Regions from separate parts of the Homo sapiens genome. Here all the other regions are linked to region 3. The links come from fine-mapping of genetic effects on gene expression. A gene starts in region 3. Each other region holds a variant in brackets. All regions are shown on one strand. Distances are from middle to middle.

Region 1 (5,227 bases), 150 kb before region 3:
CTAGACACATAGGCACAGTCTCTGGAGAACTCCGAACAATACACAGGGCAGGTTTATGCGGGGATTGACAGTGTCATGGGGCTTGGGGGTAGTGTCTTAGCCTGGTTGTGAATTTAACCCAGATCTTGCAAAATCTCCAGACATCCTTTTTTCTCACTTTTTTTTTTTTTTTTCAAGGCCCTCATGGCTCTGGGAGCTTTGGTCAAGGCTAAGACTCATTCCCTCTCCAGTGTATATTTAAGAACCAAACATGATTAAAAACAGATGTGATTAAGAATGTGAGCTTGAGATTAAACAGACCTAGGTTTAAATCCTAGCTCTGATCCTCAAGTAACTGTACCAAGTCATTTAACCTCTTCTAGCCTCAGTTTCCTCATCTGGAAAATGGAGACAGAAATTGTGTCCACCTAATAGGATAATAGGATTATTGTAAGAATTAAGGAAAACAATGCATGTAAAGCATTTGGTGCTCAGCAACTGGTAATGATCACTACCACCAGGATGTTTGGGAGCCGCAAAGATAGAAACCAAAGAGAAACAACACCTCTGACTTGGAAAAAACTTTCCTTCTCAAGGGGAGAAACAAAGAACCTCTGTGTGACATAGACAAAGTGAGTCCAAGGTAACATACTCACGGACAGGAGAGAGGGGCACACAGTATATCCAAGAGCTGGGAGCTTCCTACCAAGGGGAAATCTGAGAAATCTTCAGAAAAGAGGTAAGTCTTGGATGGACGTGGAGGGATAAGTGAGAGGAGAGATGACAGGTGGGCTAGAGGCCAGGAGCTGGCTGCTGGGGCTGTGGATATAGCTGTATAGGCTAGCAGTTAAGAGCTCAAGTGCTGGAGTCATAGGACATGTATTTGAGTCATTGACTGTGGTGTTGAGAAAGTAGACTGGGTGGCTTAGAAACAACACTGATTTATTTCTCATGGTTCTGGTGGCTGGGAAGTTCAAGATCAAGGTGCCAGCAGATTTGGTGTCTGATGAGGGCCTGCTTCCTGGTTCACAGACAGCTGCCTTCTCACTGTGTCCTCACATTGTGGAAGGAGTGAGGGAATCTCTCTGGGGTCCCTTTTTTGTTTGTTTGTTTGTTTGTTTAAGACAGGGTCTTGCTCTGGCATCCAGCCTAGAGTGCAGTGGCATGATCATAGCTCACTGCAGCTTCAACCTCCTGGGCTCAAGCAATCCTCCCACCTCAGCCTCACAAATAGCTGGGACCACAAGTAGATGCCACCACAGCTGACTTTTTAAAATTTTGTGTAGAGATAGGGACTCCTTATGTTGCCTGGGCTGTTCTCAAACTCCTGGGCTCAAGTGATCCTTTTGCCTCTGTCTCTCAAAGTAATGGGATTACAGGGATGAGCTACAGCGACCAGCCTGGAGCCTCTTTATGACAGCACTAATCTCATTCCCAAGGGCTCTGCCCTCATGACCTACTTACCTCCCAACGGCCCCCCTTCTAAATACCATCGTTTTGGGATTAGATTTCAACATGTGAATTTTGGGAGGACACAAACCTTCAGATTATAGCAGTTACCCTCCACAAGCCTCACTTTTCTTAATTTTGTAATATACAGAATGGTAGTTCCTTCCTATTAGGATTTTTATGAGGAGTTAGTAAAATAATGCTTGTAAAGTGCATTTTAAAAATTTAGTAATTACATTTCAGAGACACAGCCAACGTTACTGCTATTTTTGTATTGTATTTATTATTATAATTCCATACTTGGCCTTGTTTTCCAGAAGAATACTTACACAACCATTCAGGGTCTTTTTCCCCATGTTTTTGGATACCTGCATTCATTCATCTATTACATAATAATAATAGAATATATATATATATATAAATATATATAATTATTTTTTTTTTTCTGAGACGAGTCTCGCTCTGTTGCCCAGGCTGGAGTGCAGTAGCATGATCTCGGCTCACTGCAAGCTCCGCCTCCCGGGTTCACGCCATTCTCCTGCCTCAGCCAAATAGCTGGGACTACAGGTGCCCGCCACCACACCTGGCTAATTTTTTGTACTTTTAGTAGAGACGGGGTTCCACTGTGTTAG[C/T]CAGGATGGTCTTGATCTCCTGACCTCGTGATCTGCCCACCTTGGCCTCCCAAAGTGCTGGGATTACAGGTGTGAGCCACTGTGCCTGGCCAATAGAACATATATATATTATGTAATAATAACAGCTGACATTTAAATAGTATATTCTATGTGCCAGGCATTGTTCTAAGTACAGGGTATACTGGGTATGTACAAAACTCATTTAATCTTCCCAATATTGCTGTGAAGTAGGTACTGTTATTATTCATATTTTATAGAGGATAAAATTGAGGTCCAGAGAAGTTAAGCAGCTTGCCCAAGATTACACAGCTAGTAAGTCACAGAACTAGAATTTTTGGTCCCAGAGAGTCTGGCTCAGAATCCATGCTCTTAACTACTTGGCTATTGAACATGCACACTATTCTCAAAAACTCCGGGAAGAATGGAAGTACAAAAATATGAATTAAACACTGATCCTACCAGAAGGGAGATAGTAGCCAGGGCGAGTGATAAGACACAGTAAGATCATACCCACCCATAGCGGGTGATCATGTGGCCTGGAGGCCCACGTGGGCCTCTTGACCTGGCTGAGTTATCCACTGGAATCAGCTTGGGTCATTGGACGAAGTCCTTGTTGGAGCCTGTGTAAAGTTAGTCAACACACTAACAGTGCATTGCTGGCACCTTTTTGCCACAGGTATCAGCACAGTTGGTGCTCCCTGGCCCACTGGAAGGCTGGATGATAGAATGTGGCTGGATGAGTATAAACCCTCGCTAGTATTAACTGAAAAAATAACTTGAAGTACAGAGCCTACTGAGTGAGGGTTGAGTCATTGCCTCACTGAGACATTGTATCATTCACTGACTGGACACCTGTTTTTTGCCAAGTTATCTTCTCTGTGATGGATGTGACATTGAAAACATGTTTTGTTTTGTTTTTTTCCTCCTGAGCACACTCTCAAAATCCCTAGGATTATTCCCACTTGCCCCTTCCCAGCTTCAAATGGTTTATGCCTTAGTATAAACATTTAGAAGGTTGGAGCTAAAAAGGTCCTTGATAGTGAGTGGTATCCTGGATACCAGTTTGCAAGAACCAATTGTTAAATTTTCAGGAATTTTGTAAGCTGATTGTTAAACACAGCCGTTCTCAAAAAATTGAATTATATAAACTTACAATCAAATAAACCGTATTAAAACAAAGGTAATAAATATTCAAAACTGATTATTTCAGTAGAGCGCAGTGGCTTATGCCTGTAATCCCAGCACTTTGGGAGGCTGAGGCAGGTGGATCATTTGAGGTCAGAGGTTCGAGACTAGCCTGGGCAACATGGCAAAATCCTGCCTCTACTAAAAATACAGACATAGCTGGGTGTGGTGGTGGGTGCCTGTAATCCCAGCTACTCAGGAGGCTGAGGCAGGAGAATAAAGATACAATTCTACAGGAGAATCACTTGAACCTGGGAGGTGGAGTTTGCAGTTGAGTCGAGCTAGTGCCACTGCACTCCAGCCTGGGCAACAGAGCAAGACTCCATCTCAAAAAACAAAAAGAAAAAAAATCCCTTGTTACTTCATAATTACTTTACTATATGATATGCGATTGCATGGCCAATGCTGCATTCAGTGATGTGTTGTTGGTAAGTTCGAATTTAGCCATGGTGGTAGTATTTACACCACTGAAATCAGCAGACACTATAAATCAGTACCCCTTCCCCCAAAGCCCATTGTTGCCCAGAACATCATTTACCTTAGAAATAATCAAATCTGGTTATTTTCACCCTGGGTTTCAGTCAAGGGCATCCACCGAGAGTCCTTGGTTACTGCTAGAGGAGGAGGAAGGACAGGCAAGGTGAGAGCAGGTGAGGCTCTGCCCATTGTCCCTGCCCCTGAGCTAGGCCAGCCTGATGTGTGATTGTCATTTATTTATTTATTTATTTATTTATTTATTTATTTATTTGAGACAGAGTCTCACTCTGTTGCTCAGACTGAAGTGCAATGGCGTGATCTTGACTCACTGCAACCTCTGCCTCCCCACCCCCAGGTTCAAGCAATTCTCCTGCCTTAGCCTCCCAAGTAGCTGGGATTATAGGCACCTGCCACCACGCCCAGCTAATTTTTGTATTTTTAGTAGAGACAGGGTTTTACCATATTGACCAGGCTGGTCTTGAACTCCTGACCTTGTGATTCACCTGCCTTGGCCTCCCAAAGTGCTAGGATTACAGGTGTGAGCAACCACACCCGGCCTGTTTGTTTGATCTAGTCTAATCTTACTTTATTCTTTTTTTTTTTTGAGACAGAGTCTCGCTCTGTTGCCCAGGCTGGAGTGCAGTGGCACGATCTTGGCTCACTGCAACCTCTGCCTCCCAGGTTCAAGCGATCATCCTGCCTCAGCCCCCCTAGTAGCTGGGATTACAGGGGCGTGCCACCACGCCCAGCTAATTTTTTGTATTTTTAGTAGAGACAGGGTTTCACCATGTTGGCCAGGCTATCCTTGAACTCCTGACCTCAGGTGATCCACCCGCCTCGGCCTCCCAAAGTGCTGGGATTACAGGCGTGAGCCACCGTGCCCGGCCTATTTTATTCTTATTTATTGTTCAGGAAATTGAATTTTTACAGTTCAGATCCAGAGGTAAGTGACTCTAGGCCTCCCAGAGCCTAATCTACTTCCATATATGAGGGAGCTGACATCATGGCACCCCAGGTGGGAGACAGACTCCTGTAGACCCTGACCTGGGGCTTTTCTGGGCCCCCAGCCACGGGAGACTCTTTCTCTGCTCCTACCTGATATGTAGTCCTCATCGGAGCTGCGTCCACTGTGCCTTTTTGCCCTGTAGACATGGTGGATTCCCAACCAAGTCTTGCAGGTAGTTTTCCTCCCCTAATAAAAACCTCTCCTAACACCTCAGAGTGACTGCCTGATTTGCTGAACCCATCTTCCCTGACTGATTTGAGGTCAAGTAGAAAAATCTTACCCTCACAAACAGGTTTTCAAACCTGTCTCAACTTTTGGTTGCAGAAATCTGCATAAAGCCTTAGGAAAACAAACAAACCAAAACAGAATACAGCAGCTATTTTATTTTTCTTTTAATTTTTTTCAATTTTTGTGAATTATTTTATTTCTTCCTTGATGATTTAGAGGGACTATTTCAAACCAGTACAAATATTTCATACATAATACTGGCCAATTTCTA
Region 2 (5,227 bases), 170 kb before region 3:
ATCTCCTGACCTCGTGATCGGCCTGCCTTGGCCTCCCAAAGTGCTGGGATTACAGGCGTGAGCCACCGCGCCCGGCCATTATTTTTATTATTGTTTTTGAGGCAGGGTCTTGCTCTGTTGCCCAGGCTGGGGTGCAGTGGTGTGATCATGGCTCACTGCAGCCTGGACTATCCTGGGCTCAAGCTATCCTCCTCCCTTAGCTTCCTGAGTAGCTAGGACTACAGGTGTGTGCCACCACACCCAGCTAATTTTTGTATTTTTAGTAGAGACAGGGTTTTGCCATGTTGCCCAGACTGGTCTCGAACTCCTGGGCTCAAGTGATCTGCCCACCTCAGCCTCCCAAAGTGCTGGGATTACAAGCATGAGCCACTGTGTCCAGCCCACACATTTAAAAAATCATTTTTTTTTCTGATTGCCAAAGTAATACTCACCGTAAAACATTCAAACACAAGATTGTGCTTGAATGTGTTTGAATGTTTTACGGTGAGTATTACTTTGGCAAAAAAAAAAAAAAAAAATAATCAGAGCATCATTGGTTTTGAAAATGAAAGTCTCCTATAGTTTCACATCTCAGAATTATTTTATGCTGACTTTTAAAAATGAGACACTAACATGTAACAGAAACACCTCTGAAGACTTACTTTTCATCACACTTAGAATGGACACCAGAGCCCAGAGCCCACACCACGGCCACATCTCCCTCCACTCTTTCCTCCCCCTACTTTGCTCCAGCTGCTGTGGCTGCCTTGCAGTTTTAGAACCAGTTAAACACGGCAATACTGTAGGCCTCTGTGATGGCTGGTTCTTCCGGTCAGAATATCCTTGCCCCAAATATTCAGGTAATTCCCGCCCTCACTTTTATTCAGGTCTCTGCTCAACTGTCACTATTTTGGAAAGCCCCTCTCTAAGCATCCTAAGCAGAATAGCACACCTCATAATTCAGTTTCTTCATACCACGTATCATTACGTGACATTTAATTCTGTCTATTTATTTGCTTACTGTCTATTTAGAAAACTGTGAGAGCAGCCGGGTGCAGTGGCTCACGCCTGTAATCCCAGCACTTTGGGAGCCTGAGGCGGGTGGACCACTTGGGGCCAGGAGTTCGTGACCAGCTTGGCCAACATGGTGAAACCCCGTCTCTACTAAAAATACAAAAAATTAGCTGGGCATGGTGGTGCACGCCTGTAGTCCCAGCTACTCGGGAGGCTGAGGCAGGAGAATTGCTTAAAACCGGGAGGCAGAAGTTGCAGTGAGCCGAGATCGTGTCACTGCACTCCAGCCTGGGCGACAAGAGCGAAACTCTGTCTCAAAAAAAAAAAAAAAGAAAACTGTGAGAGCAAGGACTTTGCCTTGCTCTCTGCATATCCCCAGTACCTGGAACAGAAACTGGCACATAATAGGTGCTTAATAAATGCATGTTGAATGATTGAATAAAATTAAACTCTATAGTTCTGAAACCTGTTTTTGTGTGTGTGGTTAACAGGAGTCTCTTAATAGATAATACCTAGTACTTTTTTCAATTCCCTTATACATTCATTTGAAGTGTGCATTATAAAATTCATTGTTCAACATACAAATGAGTATCATTGACTTTGGGATCAAAGGAAGGGAAAATTATTCAAAAGAGCACTGTATGTATTTACACAGATGAAGCTGCTTTTTTACTGAACGGTATATCATGGACATCTTTTCACATCAATATATAAATCTTTCTAGTCTGCACAGTGGTACACAGTTTATTTACCCAATTCTCTTTTGATGGGCATTTGGATTGTTTCCAATTTTTCTATATTATAGACAATGTTGCATTGCACATCCTTACACATATATCCTTTGCATGCTTTTAATGTTTTATATCTTTTATCTGAGATGATGGAAAAACCTACAAGCATGAATGTCTAGCATGAGATTGGAAATGCAGTCTGGGAGCTGAGAGCTATCTAGCTTGGGGGTAGATTGGAGATTTCTTCACACATATCCAATCACTGAAGTAATAGGAATCCATGAAATATAAAGAAGGAAATCGAGCAAAGCTGGAAAACATGAATCTTAAGCAATGTCTGCACTTAGAGGGCAGGAGGAGGGAGGCAAGAAACTATTCATTTTTGACAGTTATTTCTTGATTGGTATTTTCTGAAGACTGGAAACACAATGACACAGTATGAGTGATGTGGACTTTGTTCCTGCCTTCCTGTGGCATACAGTCTCATGGAAGAGGAACGCAGAAAATAAACAGTGAAATCAGATGATCATAATAGAGTGGATAATACAAGATGACATGGAAGTACATAGGAGGGCAATTGCCACAGACGACAGCCTTAATGGAAAGTGCTCTAGAGGTTACCTCTGAGCTGAGCCTGATGTAAATAGGAGTTAGCCAGGTGAGGTGGTGCGGGTCAGGAGTGAGGAAGACTTCCAAGCTGAAGGAACAGCACTTTCAAGGTTCGGAGTTGTGAGGGAATGTGGCACATCCAGGGCACTGAAAAAAAAAGTTTACTGTGTGTGTCAGGAGACACACACAGTAAAGTGTGTGAGAGTGAGGTGGGTGGTGGGGGAGAGGACTGAGAAGTAGGCAGGGGCCATGATAAGAGGTTTGGCTTTAATTTTAAAGGCAATGAAGAATTTTAAGCAGGGAGGTCGTGAGATCAGTTCTGTAGGTACATTAGACAATGACTCCGACTGCAGTGCGGACAATGTATTGAAGGGTGTGGCATGGGAGAGAATAAGACCAGAGGGTCACCTGGTGGGAACCAGGGAAGAGGGGATATGGCTCTAAGTCAGAGTAATAGTGTTGGGCGTAAAGAGCAGTGGATGGATTCTAGAGGCATTTAGGAGGATTGGGAGGTAGAATTGACAGGACTTCGTTACAGGCTGGATTGAAGGGGAGAATGAAAGTGAAGAATCAAAGATGACAAATGAATGCAAAGAGCAGCTCCTGGTTTGGGTAATCGAGATAGGAAGATAAGCTGGTCCGGAAGGCAGTAAGGATGAAAACTTTACCTCTGGACAAGTCCCGTTTTTTGTGGGATGTCCAAGTAGAGGTGTTAAGCAGACAGGAGAGAAAGATCTGGGCTGGAGACAGCTCGGTGTCACGGGCATCCAGACAGAATTGACACCTTGGTAAATGTGAACTCTATAACA[T/G]CCGGGACTTTGTCTTCTTCATTGTGATACCTCAGGGCTTAGAACCTTGCCTGATTCGTGGTGTGTGCTCAGTAAATATTTGTGGAGTGAAGGAGTGGATGAGATCACTCGGGGAAAGTGAGGGAAGAAGAAGGCCCAAGCCAGAAAGCCAAGGAGCACAGGGAGTGTCACTGCTGCACAGGAGAAAGAGAGACAGAAGGAGGGAGAGAGAGAGACAGGGAGGAGAGAGAGGGAGAGAAAAGAGAGAGGGAGAGAGAGGGGCATGTCAGGGACACAGAGAGGAAGCAGTCAGGGCAGGAGGAGGAGCTGGGCGAGGAGAGGCAGGAAGTGGTGAATAATGTCAAAGCTGTTGAGAGTAACTCAAAGGGGCAACAAAAGTCCAAGAGATTTGGACAACACGGAGGTCATTAGTAATCTTGAGGAGACTGTTTTCAGAGGACAGAGGAGTGACAAGGAAGGGTGTAAGGGGAGATAAGAAGTATACATGACCCTTTCAGGAAGTTTGACTGTGAATTAGGTATAAAAGGCAGTGAAAACAAGAGTATTTTTTTTAAGAGATGGAGACTTATGGATTTTTTCATGATTTTGAGAAAGAACAGCAGAGAGGAGATTAAAGACTCAACAAGATGACAGGATAATTGTTAGAGAGAGGTGAGGAGATGGGAGGAGATGAGATTTCCTTCAAGATGGAGGAATGGGCTCAAGTCAGTAAAGAGACAAGTTCCATTTTAACCAGAAAAATGAAATGCCGGTTACGATGAATTTCCAGGTTTGCAGGTGAGAAGTTGGGGTGTTTCTATCTGGTGTCCTCCAGACTTTCCTTGAGGCCACCAAGCAATGATGGGGAATGGCTATGGAGTAAGGAAAAGCAGTAGCAGAGCAGTGAAACGGGAGTCAATGGGAAAGAGGGGTCCATCCAGAGACAGGGAAGGCAACACAGGCCCAGTATCATGGAGCGAAGAACATGAGGACTGATGAGGCATAGGGCTGGTCAGTTGGGGATTATTCATAATATCTGAAGTTTCTGGAAAGTGATAGAGGTTGGACCCTCTACTGTCAGGATCTGAGAAATGAGCAGATATGTGAGGAGTGAAGTCAGCAGTTATATATAACTGGAGAGAATTCTGGAAGGGGAAAGCAGGAGTAGAGGGAGTGCTAAGGGTCATCTGAGCTTAATTCAGGATTTTTAAAAGAAGTGCAGCTAGGCTTGGACATGGGGCAGGAGAGGGAGGGTTTGAAATGTTGGAGGAAGAGGCCGGGCACAGTGGCTCACGCCTGTAATCCCACCACTTTGGGAGGCTGAGGCGGGTGGATCACCCGAGGTCAGGAGTTCCAGACCAGCCTGGCCAACATGGTGAAGCCCTATCTCTACTAAAAATACAAAAATTAGCTGGGCGTGGTGGCCGGTGCCTGTAATCCCTGCTACTTGGGAGGCTGAAGCAGGAGAATCACTTGAATTCGGGAGGTGGAGGTTTCAATGAGCCGAGATCACATCATTGCACTCCAGCCTGGGCAACAAGAGTGAAACTCCATCTCGAAAAAAAAAGAAAAAATGGTTGGAGGAAGAAGAAACAGAGAAGCCAGAGGGAGATGAGATCAAATGTGTGGTGGATGAGTTAGCCCTAAAATGTGGAGGGACCCTTCTCTTTTGTGACAGGAAAGAAGCTGGACAGGCTTGGCACACCAGCAGAGAGGTGGAGGTATGGACTCGAAATTCCGGGGAAATTGTTATTTCTCTATGGGTTATGCATGGGAGAGCAGGAGGTACTTGTTCTCTACTTTCCCCAAACCTCTACTTCACAGGCAATAAGACATTTGATGCCCACCCCATCCCTAGCAATCTGACCCACTGGTTAGGTCAAAACCGAGGACTAAGCATTTGGCAGTCTCTGCCCTGGCCCTAACAGTTTGAAAGACTATTGTAGCTCCTGCCTCAGTGCCCCCTTTTGGGAAGGAAGAATCACAGAAAATCAGGGCAGGAAGTGAGCTCAAAAACATGCGGTTCACATCTCAAAGTACACAGATGGGAGAAGTTAAGTCACCATCACCGAGTCTCCCAAGCATTCACCTTTTCTCCCCAGCTGT
Region 3 (5,227 bases):
ATGAGAGAGCGCAGCAACAGGGTGGGACCTGCAGCTTGTGGAAAAATGCTTTTGACACAGATACTTTCTGATGGCCAGTGATGTTTAGAACCTTTTGGGGGATTCCTTCTCTCTCAGAATTTAACCTGGCAAGAGAACGACTGAGTTCTAGGAATTTTCTTGTCTGGAGAGAGTAAAATAAATGTATTTTTTAAAAGCTGGGACTGTTATCCACACTGAGAAGAGGCAGGGTATAAAATTCCCTTTCATAAGTGAATTTCCTGGAAATTCATGATTGGCTTGGAACTTAATGTGTAAAGACTTGTTCTCAAATATCAGTTGTTTGACAGAGACCTCCAGTTTTGGGATGGCAGCTAAATCCTGAGCCTGCCTTGGAAAGGGTTTTGATAATAATGTTCCATCACAGGTGGAGAAGCACATTGATTCAACAAAGCAGACTTCAAAACCACTGAAGAATTAGTTTCTGAGTGTATTCAAGAGATACCAAAGTTATTTGTTATTTTAACGTATATTATACTGTTCTATACAAATGCACCAAATCCTGGGCAAAACATTCCTAGGACAGGTTTTTTTTTTTTTTTTTTTCAGTTGGAAGGAGGTAGGGAAAATAAGTGCTTTAATTCCTAGGATTTTGGAAGTAAAAATGGAACACCAGACAAAAATGGAATTTTTAGGCAAATGTAAAGCTTTGTACTTGGGTATCTCAAAGTATTATACAGTGTAAACTATCATGATTATTAACCAACTAGAAGTAGTTCTTTTTTTTAAATTTTATTTTTAATTTTAGACATGAGGGTCTTGCTATGTTGCCCAGGCTGAAGTGGCTACTGACAGGCACGATGTGGCACTGCAGCCTGGAACTCTTGGGCTTAAGTGATCCTTCCTGCTTCTTCTATCTTAAAAAAAAAAAGTTACGCTTGCTTGTTAAAATATTTTTAAAATGCTGTGTTTAAACTAAGAAGTAAATATCCACCCCACCTCTGACTTCTAAAAATTATCTAAAGTATGACTGGTAAGATTTTTACCTTTAATCCCACATAAGTCTAAAATTTGTGTTCATTTCCAACAACCAAAGTGTGTCACTTTTATACCAGAATTTTGTCCTGCTTATACGTTTAGTACAGAAATCTCATGGGAGAGAGCATCCATGCATTTACAAATTGTTATTGAATTATTTTATTGAATGATGACACCCAAACTGAGCTAGAACATAATTCTGGCTCTGCTAGTACATCTTCTGTGTGATCTTGGACAAGTCACTCTACTTTCCTTTCAATTTTCTTTTCTCACAGGGAGATAATCATAAAAACGACTGTAAAGTACAGCACTTCATAGAGTGCTTTTTGTTTAAAGAGCTGACAATAAATACGAGTCTCAAGGTCTAGGAAAGCCTCCCTCACAACCTGAGCTGCTTGAGGACAAGGGATTTTCTTTTGAATCAGCAGTACCTTATTTGTGTATCTGTGATAGAGTTCCTGGTACATAAGAAGGTCTCAATAAATATGTGAATTTATGAATATTAGGCAGATTGCAACCTTGACAGGCCACTGCCTCTTAAATCTCCTTTCTGTGATCTTTTAATATTTAACATCTAAAAGGCCGCCGCTACTTGCTTTGGGATAAGTATCCCCGGTATGTACTTTAAAATGCCCAAGCCTAGAGAAATGATTCTTGTCTTAAGGGCACCATTTCGCTCTCCCACCGTAAAGCGCCCCAGGCTTGGGATCTGGGTCCCAAGGCTACAGGGAAGAGTTTGGAACGGGAAGCTCATCTTCCGGCCCTCTGATTGGCCGGCTCGCACTCCACTCACGCGGCGCGCAGCTCTGATTGGCCTCGGCGGCACCCCTCGTCCCGCGACTACTTTGTGTGCTGGGGCGGCGCGCTCCGGTCCTCCCGCTCAGCTGGCGGTCTGGGCTGCTCTGGGGCAGCCCTTCGGTCCACTGCTCTGCATCGCGGGCGCCGGGAATTTTCCGAGTCCGAGCGGGTAGGACGCATCCTAGGGCAAAGCCTCTCCCCTCTCCCCGTGCTGTTCTCTTTCCCGTACTAAATAAACTTCCGCCTCAGAGGGGCTGTCGCAGCCGCGGGTCGGGAGAGGCCGGGCATCGAACTCAGGCCCTCGTGGGGGGGGTCTTTCTCTTCGAGTGAATGTGGAAACAGCTCTTACAAGATAAAGTAGGGCTTCGCTGAGTCTCCTGGGGGAGCGATGCCATTGTAGGATCGCGCTGGAAGCAGCAGTCAAGCGGCCAAATGCGGGCTGCAGGGGCTGAGCAGCAGCAGCGCGCACCCCTAAAAGTAGCAAGGAGCCAGCTTCAAAACCTCTAGTGCGGGTGCCCCCTAGGGCCGCCGACTGAGCTGGCACGGGCCGGTCCATTCCCGGCGCTGTAGGGAGCACAGCATTCTCTGGAGGCGAGTCTCCTCCCGGGATCCAGGATCCGCTCGCGCCCCGCTCAGCCTCCGGCCTTCAGGCGGTAGAGGGCGGCCTACGCCTGTGTGCGAGCCGGAGCCGGCGTGCGCAGCCGCTGCCCTGCTGGAACTGTGCCGTCCCGCTGTGGCCCGCGGCTCTGCTAGGCGGTGGATGCTGCTGCTACGCTCTCCACCGGCGCAGCGAGGAAGGGGGCGGGGAGAATCCCTGGCACATGCCAGGGTCGCCGTAGGTGGCAGCGGCCGGCGCATGCGCGCCCTCTCCCAGAAGCCAGGAACGCCGAGGGGCGCGCTCCCCCATTCGCGCGCGCACGCCGGCGCTGGCCGAGGCTTCCCCGCCTGCGCTCGTTGTCAGAGCCGCTCCGGCGCGTGCGCGCGTTATCTCCGGCCGACCCGAGCAGCCGGTTCCCTCCTCTCCAGGCCCCCTCCCCATCCCACCCCCGCCGCCTGGCCCCAGCCGACCCGTCCCTTCGTCTCCCCGCGGAATGGGGCCGGCACTGCTCAGGGTCGCGCGCCCTGGACCCAGCTCGCTCTCGGTCTCGCGCTGTCAGCGACTGCCCGGCTCGCGCCGCCTCGCGCTCTGCCTCAGTCAGTGGCGCCGAAGGCTCCGTTAAGCGGCGGCGGCGGTTCCTGTTTCCGTTTCTTCCTCTCCGTTCGGTCGGGAGTAGCATCCTCCACTCAGCCACCCTTCCCACTCCCCCATCGTGGGGCAGCTGCGGCTGAGGGCTGTGGCTTTGGCAGCTGCGACGGGGAGCGGCGGAGACCGCCTCTGCTCCCGCCTGGGGTAAGGGGGCGTTTTGGGAGCCGGGCCCCGCGCGCCTCGGGGTCTTGGGCTGGGCTGCGCGCGGGATCTGAGGAGGCTCCGCGGCTGTCCCTGCTCGTTCACCCGGGCCTGTTGCTGCAACTGCTGCCGGTTAACCAGCGGCTCTCGGAAAAGTGGGGAGGGAGCCCCCGGGACGCTCTGGCGGATGCCTTGGCGCAGCCCCGGGGGCGCGGGCAGAGGGTGAGGGGCGCCCGCCTCTCCAGCCGGGACGCGGAGCTGCGCCGCTGCTGCCCTCGGCGTCGCGCATCCTTGCCTAGGGCAGGGGCCAAAGCCTAGGGAAGGAGAAGGGTTGGGGGCGGGGGTGGGAGGTGTCCGTCGTTTCCCCTCCACACCTACCTTCCCTTCGTCAGCAGCTCGGTCCCTGGAGTCGCGGTTTGTGGGGAGGAAGATGCCCGTGCGTTATGGGCTCTTTCTGAGTGCTGCTCGGGCTAGAAAGCAGGGAGTGGACCCTCACAAAGATCCGCGAGGGACTGATGCAGGGCAGTTAAAGGCTTGAGTGCAGCTGTACTCCCTTTTGATGTGCAAATGACGAGCTGGCGGCTTTTGAGTATCAACTTATTTGGGAAGGTTAAATGAGTCCATATTTATCAGTTCTAGGAGGTTTGTCCTGCAGGATTGAGTGGGTTGTCGGGTGCAGCACCTGTTCTTTCTTCACAGTGGGGATTGCAATCTTCAGAGACGCAGTGTATTTCTTAAGTGGCAGTGTCATGCTTAGGGTTTGTCCCGGATGAGCTTTTATTTTAGCATTTTGCCATATAATATATAGATTGAGGCCTTGGTTAAAGGCACGGACAGGTGGTGTTTTTTTCCTTCCTATGTTTTAATTATTCACAGTTTATTTAAACCCACTCAGGAAGGTGGACCCAGAAAAGCCAAATTCTGTAGTACATAACCCCAAATTTCAAGGTTTTGCGGAACAAATTCAACACAAGTTTTGTGTCAGTTTAGAGTTAAACGCATCTCAAGTAACTGACTTAACTGGCTTGCCTCTATGAAAACTGTAGGCAGGTTTCATTATAGATTTTTTTTTTCTTGTTATTCCGGCGGTTAGGTGCATGTTTATTTTCTTGATTAAATTTACATTCTATGTTTTATGACTAATTCTTTAAATAGGTGCATCATATAGAAAGTATTTTAGGAGAGAAATTATTATTTAAGCACTACAGTATATCAGATATATGAGAAATAATGGAGTTGTAGTCTCTGCTCTTTAAAATAACTGTAAAAACATCTTAAAACCCTATGCCAAATAATAAGGCCCTGTACCTTGCTGTCCTTGTGAAATCTGGTATGTGTATAGAAAATCTTAATTACTTGATTTGTAAATACTACAGTAGTATTGAAAAGGTGGGAATTCAAGCATTTGTAATTGTGATTTCACAGGTTTAGTGTGTAAAAAATGCAGGGAGTTAGAGATGAATAGGCTATAAGACACGTACAAAGGTAGTTCCAAGACATGGATTTTCTTTTTGCTGCCTTATAAATTGAGAATTCTATTTGAATTCAAGAGCTGAACAGCTGGAATGAAACTTGCATAGATTGCAGAAACAGATGCAAAAATGTATCTTTGGTCAAGTTGTGAGTTAACTTGAAGAGTGTCTTGTGTAATAGGATAGTGATTCAAAATAATTTCCATAAAGTACGGCCTTATATAGGTTATATTTTGAGGATATTTTTGAATTTAAAAAGTCACCTGAAGTTGTTTTCCTACAAATCAGTTCTGTTTAAGATGTATGGAATCGAAAAAAACAAAACAAAACTAATTCTGATTACATCCTGCATTGTTTTGTTGCAAATTCTTACCAGTTATTTTTACGCAATTGGAGTGTCCTTAAAAGTGGTGAATCTTAAAATTTGCCAGTGGATTGGAAAAAACTGTTAACTTATTATTTTTAAAAATGCTGTTATATTAGTACATTGGTCTGGAGGGGGAGCTAGTGCCAAAGCAAAGTATAGCTTAATAGCTGTTTGAACTTTTAAAAC

What was found. PIP is the estimated chance that this variant, and not a neighbour inherited with it, causes the effect. A credible set is the group of variants that fine-mapping cannot tell apart.
Region 1: its variant is the best candidate, but not a certain one, in a credible set for the expression of FUT8 in testis (GTEx, PIP 0.51).
Region 2: its variant is the best candidate, but not a certain one, in a credible set for the expression of FUT8 in fibroblasts (GTEx, PIP 0.54).

Annotation. Positions count from the first base shown.
Region 1 is chr14:65,260,759-65,265,985 of GRCh38, forward strand. No RefSeq gene overlaps it. Among named protein-coding and RNA genes, the nearest start is that of LINC02324, 41 kb to the left of the region's middle. The variant C/T (reference allele first, on the strand shown) is at 2,061.
Region 2 is chr14:65,240,720-65,245,946 of GRCh38, forward strand. No RefSeq gene overlaps it. Among named protein-coding and RNA genes, the nearest start is that of LINC02324, 21 kb to the left of the region's middle. The variant T/G (reference allele first, on the strand shown) is at 3,143.
Region 3 is chr14:65,410,010-65,415,236 of GRCh38, forward strand. FUT8 (fucosyltransferase 8) reads left to right here and starts at 2,721. Exons shown (of 11, transcript NM_001371533.1): 1 at 2,721-3,205. It overlaps FUT8-AS1 (FUT8 antisense RNA 1), which reads right to left and starts at 2,608. Exons shown (of 1, transcript NR_024334.1): 1 at 583-2,608. RefSeq lists enhancers at 1,900-2,219, 3,462-4,026 and silencers at 2,760-2,919, 3,220-3,339, 3,350-3,539.